Linked DNA regions of Homo sapiens: region 1 is linked to region 2. The links come from fine-mapping of genetic effects on gene expression. A gene starts in region 2. The other region holds a variant in brackets. All regions are shown on one strand. Distances are between the middles of the regions.

Evidence for each region. PIP is the estimated chance that this variant, and not a neighbour inherited with it, causes the effect.
Region 1: its variant is the best candidate, but not a certain one, in a credible set for the expression of LINC02111 in testis (GTEx, PIP 0.54).

The regions. Positions count from the first base shown.
Region 1 is chr5:17,330,924-17,335,318 of GRCh38, reverse strand. No RefSeq gene overlaps it. Among named protein-coding and RNA genes, the nearest start is that of LINC02111, 54 kb to the left of the region's middle. The variant G/A (reference allele first, on the strand shown) is at 2,606.
Region 2 is chr5:17,384,761-17,389,155 of GRCh38, reverse strand. LINC02111 (long intergenic non-protein coding RNA 2111) reads left to right here and starts at 1,846. Exons shown (of 3, transcript NR_033975.1): 1 at 1,846-1,954; 2 at 3,716-4,313.

The DNA of each region.
Region 1 (4,395 bases), 54 kb after region 2:
TTTGGGTATTTTACAATTAAAACATTTTAATCTTGGAAAACATCAACTCTGACACTTGGGCTACAAATGCTGCTTTAGATGCTTTTATTGAAACAGTCAATCTACATGAGATAATTTGATACTAAAGAGTGAAAATTATTTTTAAGTATTTTGATGGCTTCAATGAAAAATGTGACCAAAGTAAAGAATATGTAAATTACTCTAGTTGTTCCATAATATTTCAGCATCATCACACCCCCAAAAAATGATAAACTGTGACAACAGTAGATGTGATTTAATAGATAATTACATTTAATATAATATAAGTACTTATCTATCAATCCAAGGCTGAATATTTTCTTCTGCCAGGTCAATGAGTATGTCTCATGGGCTTAAAATGGACAGTGCAAAGAATGAGCAGTCTATAAAAGCAGGTTTTACACTGCATGATACCAGGTAAATGCTGCATGATAGCTGTTTGGCTTGAAGTGCTGTTTTAAAAGCTGGGAGAGAAGGTATAAAGGGGTTCCCTGTGAAGAGTTTGGCATATGCCCATGGCCTTCTACTATTTTGATTACATTCATGTTTGATATGGTTTGGCTGTGTCCCCACCCAAATCTCATCTTGAATTATAGCTCCCATAATTCCCACATGTTGTGGGAGGGACCTGGTGGGAGATAACTGAATCATTGGTGCAGTTTCCCCCATACTGTTCTTGTGATAGTGAGTAAGTCTCACGATATCAGATGGCTTTATAAGGGGCTTCCCCTTTCACTTCTCTCTCATTATCTCTTGCCTGCCACCATGTAAAATGTGCCTTTCACCTACCACCATGATTGTGAGGCCTCCCCAGTCATGTTGAACTGTGAGTCCATTAAACCTCTTTTCCTTTACAAATTACCCAATTTCAGGTATGTCTTTATCAGCACCATGGAAACGGACTAATACAATGTTAAAGAACATATTATGACTGTATCAGGCAGAGTTCTTCAGAGAAACAGAGCTAATAAGGTATGTATAGATATATAGAAAGAGATTGAGCATGAGGGATTGGCTCACATGATTATGGAGGCTGAGAAGGCCTGTGATCTGCCCTCTGCAAGCAGGATGCCCAGGAAAACTGGAGGTGTCATTCCAGGATAAACTCAAAGGCCTGAGAACCAGAGATGCCAACGGTTTAAATCCCAGTCCAAGTCTGAAGACCTGAGAATGTGGGGGTGGGCCAATGGTGGAAATCCTGGTCAAGTCTGAAAGTGCAGGAATCAAGAGCACCAATGCCCAAGGGCAGGAGAAGATGGATGTCCCAGCTCAAGAAGAGTGAATTCACCCTGCTGAAAAATTCTTAACAGGGAGGTGGTTAGACTGAGGTAGTTCTAGTGTCTACCTAAGCCCAACATAAACAGTAAAATGAAAATAGAGACTTTACCAATCGAAACTGCAGCTGCCCTCTAACCAAGGTCTTTCCATTCTAACCAATCAAGTATATTTTCTTTGTCTTACTCGTGTGTCCACCTACAAAAGCTCTCTGCCCACCCTGCTGTAGCAGAGCGTTCTATACCTCTTCTGGTTTTAAGTGATGTCTGATTCATGAATTATCCTTTACTCAAATAAACTCTGTTAAATTAATATTGTCTAAAATTTGGGTTTTCTTTTTTTCAAATCACCTTTTCTCCATCTTTGTGTTTCTATCTGGGCCCTCATGGGATCAGACCATACTCACCTACACTGGTGAGCACAGTCTTCCTTACTCAGTCAACCAACTCAAAGGCTAATCTCTTCCAAAAACACCCTCACAGACATACCCAGAAATAATGTTTTAGCAGCTACTTGGGCATCCTTTAACCTAGTCAAGTTGACACATAAAATGAACCAGTACAATGGCCATGCAATGCTAGAGAAGAATTAAATGTGTACCCCTGTCAACCTAAGGGAAGAAACTGGGGCACAAAATATAATTTTAAGGAGTTTGCTCAGCCAGGTGCAGTGGCTCATGCCTGTAATCCCAACATTTTGGGAGGCTGAGGCAGGTGGATCACTTGAGGCCAGGAGTTTGAGACCAGCCTAGCCAACATGGTGAAATCTCATCTCTACTAAAAATGCAAAAATTAGCCAGGTTGGTGGCTCACATCTATAATCCCAGCTACTCTGGAGGCTGATGCAGGAGAATTACTTGAGCTTAGGAAGCAGAGGTTGCAGTGAGCCGAGATGGTGCCATTGCACTCCAGCCTGAGCCACAGAGTGAGACTCCATCTCAAAAAAAAAAAAAAAAAAAAAAAAGAGTTTACTAGAGCCAAGATAAGAACAGCTGCCTGGAAGACTCAGACCCAAGTAACCTTAAATATGAGCCTTTGTTACAAGAAGGCTTTTATAGGCAAAAAAAAGGGGACAGGAAGTAGCTATTACAAACTTGCTTGACAGGGATTCTCATTGGTTTACAAAAATAACATTGATTAGTGATTGCCTGTACATTTTTCTTTGTATCACAAATTCCAGAAACATGAAGACAGTAGTGACAGTCACATGGTGCAACTTGCAGTGACATTTTAGATAATTTATCAGCTAGTTTGGAAACTACCAGGAGGAAAGAAAGAATAAAGTGCCTTTAAACAATTGTCCCTAAACGTGG[G/A]TGCAGGGATGGGGGGCAAATGACTGAAGTCTCATGCTCGCATCTTTCTGGGCCTGATAAATTTTGCATATCTGACATTCCTCAGAATGCTCTGAGCTATTTTTCTTTCTCACCCACGACTAAAATGTTACCGGTCATGTTTTTTCAACTTCACTTGTAAGATAGCTCTAACAAAAATGTCCATATGCCAACAAATTTCCCCCTAAAATAACTCTAACCACCCTTTTTCCTCACTAAACACTCGCCAGTGAAGTACTTTCCCACCAACAGTGATTTCCTGTTCCTCAAACACACCCTGCACTTTCTTGCCTCCACGCTTTTAGTCTCATCACGTTCCCTGTCTGACATTATAATCCTCGCTCTCCCTCCCCACTGTTTTTACCTCCACCTACACTTTTTTTTCTTTTCTTTTTTTTTTTGAGATGGAGCGTCACTCTTGTTGTCTAGGCTGGAGTGCAGTGGCGCAATCTCAGCTCACTACAACCTCCGCCTCCTGAGTTCAAGCGATTTTCCTGCTTCAGCCTCCCGAGTAGCTGGGATTACAGGTGTGCACCACCACACCTGGCTAATTTTGTACTTTTAGTAGAGACGGGGTTTCACCATATAGGTCAGGCTGGTCTCAAACTCCCAGCCTTAGGTGATCCACCCACCCCAGGCTCCCAAAGTGCTGGGATTACAGGCATGAGCCACCGCGCCCGGCCCACCTACACTTTTTGTGCCTATCCAAATTGCTCCTCCTCTGTAAAAACTTCCAGATCACATCATTCCAGAGTTACTTCTCCCCCTTCTGAATTTCTTTGATGTACACGCTCTGCAATATTTATTTGGAAACTGATAATTTATTTTCTCTTATATTTGCTAAATCATCACTTATTTATGATTTATCTTACCAATTGTTTTGAACCTTTCTATAGTAGAGAGACTTTGTCTATTTATTTGTGAACCCAGCAATGTCTTATAACTGGGAGGAAGACAATGTACACTTGTTGCTTGATTATTGTTAATTTATGAAAGAAGTGATGGAAGAAAAAGGAATAACAATAATTGTTAACATTTACTGAGTGCATTAGTCTGTTTTCACGCTGCTGATAAAGAAATACCAGGACTCGGAAGAAAAAGAGGTTTAACTGAACTCACAGTTCCACATGACTAGGGAAGCCTCAGAATCATGGCGGGAGGTAAAAGGTACTGCTTACATAGGGGTGGCAAGAGAAAATGAGAAAGATGCAAAAGAGGAAACCCCAGATAAAACCATCAGATCTCGTAAAACTTATTCACTACCACGAGAACAGTATGGGGGAAACTGCCCACATGATTCAAATTCTCTCTTACCACCTCCCTCCGACAACATGTGGGAATTATGACAGTACAATTCAAGATGAGATTTGGGTGGGGACACAGAGCCAAACCATATCACTAAGTGTTTACCTGTCAGATACTTACGGTTCAATCTACTATTTGCATATTATTTGTTTTGTTTTGTTTTGTTTTGAGACAGAGTCTCCCTCTGTAGCCCAGGCTGGAGTGCAGTGGCTGGATCTCGGCTCACAGTGCAACCTCTGCCTCCTAGGTCCTGGTTCAAGCAATTCTCCTGCCTCAGCCTCCCGAGTAGCTGGGATGACAGGCACATACCACCACACCCAGCTAATTTTTGTATTTTTAGTAGAGATGGGGTTTCACCATGTTGGCCAGGCTGGTCTTGAACTCCTGACCTTGTGATCCGCCCGCCTCAGCCTCCTTAGGTGCTGGGATTACATACATTGTATCACTTAATCTCCATATTCTATGAG
Region 2 (4,395 bases):
TAAGCATGCCTAGGATAGGAATTTGACTACTAGAAATGGAAATATTGCTTCAACCAGACAAGAGTTCATTTTTCTCACATAACATGACATGTAGAGATAGATATCCCAGGGCCTGTGGTAATAAATCTAGGCTATCTAAGCTGACATTAGACATCAATATTGTACTCCTTCTACCCTGTCACCTCATTTTTAGCACCAGGCTTCAATTCTCAAGGATGCCTCATGATCACATGATGGTTGCTAGTTCCAGCCATCACTTTCTACATTCCAAATAAGGAAAAAATGCAAAAGGAGGGAGACAGCAAAAGGCAGCTACCAGCTGAGTAATCATTTTTAAGATAGCTTTCCCAGAAGCAACACTAGTGATTTGGATTTGTTTCTCATCGGCCTCATCTCTCTGCAAAGGATGTGAGAAAATGTACTTGGGCATACCTCTCTCTACAAAACCAGAAATCTAGGGAGAAAAGGGAGAGTTTTATTACAGAATGTGGCCATTCCTGCTGCAGCCTGTTTTCAAGCTAGTGGTAAATAATCCTGCAGAGGTCAGGCACGGTGGCTCACTCTGGTCATTCCAGCACTTTGGGAGGCTGAAGCGGATGGATCACTTGAGGTCAGGAGTTCCAGACCAGCTTGGCCAACATGGTGAAACGCTGTCTCTACAGAAAAATATATAAATTAGCTGGGTGTGGTGGTGCGTGCCTGTAATCTCAGCTACTTGGGAGACTGAGGTGGGACAATCTCTTGAACCTGGGAGGTTGAAGCTGCAGTGAGCCGAGATCGCACCACTGCACTCCAGCTTGGGTGACAGAGTGAGATCTTGTCTCAAAAATAATAATAATAATTTTAAAAATGGCCAGGTGTGGTGGCTTATGCCTGTAATCCCAGCAATTTAGGAGGCCTAGGGGGGCAGATCACCTGAGGTCAGGAGTTCCAGACCAGCTTGGCCAACATGATGAAACTCCATCTCTACTAAAACTACAAAATTAACCAGGCATGGTGGTGCACACCTGTAATTCCAGCTAGTTGGGAGGCTGAGGCAGGAGAATCACTTGAACCTGGGAGGTAGAGGTTGCAGTGAGCCAAGATCATGCCACTGCACTCCAGCCTGGGTGACAAGAGTGAAACTCGGTCTAAAAAAAAATCCTGCAGAAAGGGATAGACTGCATTGGGGGCTATGCCAGGGTGGCAGAGGGAGAGAATAATATCTTTACATACTTTTAATGAGGTATGCTTCTCTTCTCCCACTAGCTCAGTGACATTCATTGGGGGGTCAGGCCCAGACTAACAACACATGGGGTCAGTTGAAGTGGTGAATGATGATTTTTCTTTTTAACATGACTTTCATGTTGATCTTACACCAAAGTGCTTTTAAACTAGCAAAAGCTTAGAACTAGTTGAGGGAAAAGTATTGCTCTCAAAACTAAGCGGGCTTTGATAGGAAGATGAAGACAGAGGTTGGATACCTAGGCAAAGAGTCTGTCTCAGTTAACATTGGAATAAGGAAGGCTGCAGGATAGCTCCTAACACTGGCGAAAGGAATTAACACTGCCCACGCCTTTTTGTTTGCTTGTTTCAGTTTCTTATTTTGCTGTAGTTAAGAGCCTGGAAAGAGAAAAAAAAATCAGATACTGCTGATTGTTTCAGCAGGTTGGGGGAAAAGGAGAGACCGTGGTTGATAATCCAGGCTGATGGATGTGAGGGGTAGGAAAGAAATCTCCATCATATGTATGAGAATCCAAAGGCAGAAAGCTGTTTCCATTTGGAATCCTAAGGCGAGGCAGCTTCCCAGACTGCCTGCCCAACACGGAGCAGCTCCAGAAGAACAGGATGGGGCGGGGGCCAAGCGCAGAAGGGCTGGGAGGTCCCCACCCCAGGCCCCCTCATTTCCAGTGAGGCCTGCAGAAGACCCAGAAAATTTCTCATAGGCCCTGAGGAGGAAAAGAACAGAAAATTAGTAAGTTGTATGCCTGCCGAGGGTCACCAAAGTGTGGGGCCAGGAGACCCCGTAGCAGAGGCACAGGAAGGACAGCCCAAAGCTGAGAGCCAGTGGAGGAGTCTTCCAAGTCCCGGGGAATCAGCGGAACTAGGGGGAAACCGATGGGGAAATGGCAGAGCTCCCGACAACCAAGGGCAGGGCAGACCTGTGCTGAGAGAGCAGGCGTGGGGGAGCTTGGGCACAGTGACTATAGTGGGAAACCCGCACACCAACAGAATGAGGCATTTCCCAGAAGCCAGCCTCTGGAGACCATGTGGGGTTTAGGGGACTAGCGCTTCCCTCGACGCCATGCTGGTTTTGTCCACACGGCTACAGGGCACCCGGGGAGGCCACAGAAGCAAATTCAACTGGTTGGAAAATTCTCAAAAGATACTTTTCCCTTCTTCCTTCCTTCCTTCTTTCCTTCCTTCCTTCCCTCCCTCCCTCCTTTCTTCCTTTCTTTCTTTCGAGATGGGGTCTCACTATGTTGCCCAGACTGGTCTCTAGCTCATGGACTCAAGTGATCCTCCCGCCTTGGCCTCCCCAATGTGCTAGGATTACAGGTGTGAGCCACTGTGCCCAGCAAAAGAGACCTTTTTTAAAACAGAAAAAAAAAAAAAAAGGCAGGTGCAGTGGCTCACGCCTGTAATTCCAGCACTTTTGGAGGCCAGGGCGGGCAGATCACCTGAAGTCAGGAGCTCGAATCCAGGCTGGCCAACATGGTGAAACCCTGTCTGTAATAAAAACACAAAATTAGTTGGGTGTGGTGGCATGCGCCTGTAATCCCAGACCTTTGGGAGGCTGAGACAGGAGAATCGCTTGAACCCAGGTGGCAGATTGAAGTGAGCTGAGATGGCGCCACTGCACTCCAGCCTGGGTGACAGAGCTAGACTCTTTCTCAAAAAAATAAATAAATAAAACAGAAAAAAAATGTTTGAAGAGAAATTGTTTTTTGAGCAAACTGAGGTTTTGTTTGTTTTTGAGACGGAATTTCGTTCTTGTCGCCCAGGCTGGAGTGCAGTGGTACGACCTCAGCTCACTGCAACCTCCTCCTCCTGGGTTCAAGCAATACTCCTGCCTCAGCCTCTTCCCGGAGTAGATGGGACTACAGGCATGCACCACCACGCCCAGCTAATTTTTGTGTTTTTAGTAGAGATGGGGTTTCACTATGTTGGCCAGGCTGGTCTCGAACTCCTGACCTCAGTTGATCCTCCTGCCTCGGCTTCCCAAAGTGCTGGATTACAGGCGTGAGCCATTGCGCCTGGCCAGGTTTTTCTCTTTCAAGCTGAGCTGTCCAGTATGGTAGCTGCTAGCCACAGGTGGTCCATTGGGTGGCTAGTCTGAATGGAGATGTCTGCCAGTGTAATATAAACATGGGTTTTCAAAGACTCAGTCCAAAAAATATATATCTAAATTATCTCTTTAATCATGTGGTATATGAATTACATAATTAAACAATGTAGTTTTGACATATGGATGAAATAAAATACATTATTTAAATTAATTTCACCTGTTTCTTTTTACTTTTTTTAATGTGGCTGAAAAATATATGGTTCACATTTGTGGCTCATTATATATTTTATTGGACAGCACCACTTTAGAGATAGAAAGCAAGCTGTATTTCTGCAGGTATTCATCCTGAATCGAGGATCAAATATAGGTGTGAAAACTTTCAGATCTGTTAGGTATCTATTGATGTGTAAAACAAGTTGATTTAAGTCAACATTTATTATCTCGTAGGTCTGTGTGCCAGGAATCTGGGTGCCACTTAGGCGGGCCTGCTGGCTCAGGGTCTCTCACAGGCTGAAATCAAGGTGTCACCTGAGGCTACCATCATCTCAAGGCTTAACTGGCAAAGGATGTACATTCAGCCACCCTAGATGGTTGTTGGCAGGACGCAAACTCCTCGTGGGCTATTGAATTGAGGACCTCTGTTTATTGTTCTTGTCAGCCCAAGGCTGCCCTGAGTTCCTTGCCATAAGGACCTCTCCATAAGGCAGCTTGCAACATGGGAGGTGCTTCATCAGAGCCAGCTGGTGACAGAGTACAAGCAAGATGAAAGTGACAGTCTTCTATAACCTGATCTTGGAAGTGACAGCCTATCATTTTTGCCATATTCTTCTCATTAGAAGCAAGTCAATAGTCCCACACTCTAAGTAAGGAGATTGCAGAAGGGCATAAATAGGAGGAGATGGGGATTGCTGAAGGCCAATTCAGAAGCTGCCTGCCTAGAACCAAGGAGTATACGAAGCATGCACAAGATGGTTCATCCTGGCAGAGGAGGAACAGTTCTTCCCTCATAACCGAGCTGGAGAGGCACACGTGGCAGAAGGTAGAGGTAGACTGTTGTAGTTGGTGGTGACAAGTTATAGGACCAAAGCTGATGACCTATTTGTTTATCTCCTTGAAGAAGGAGGCAA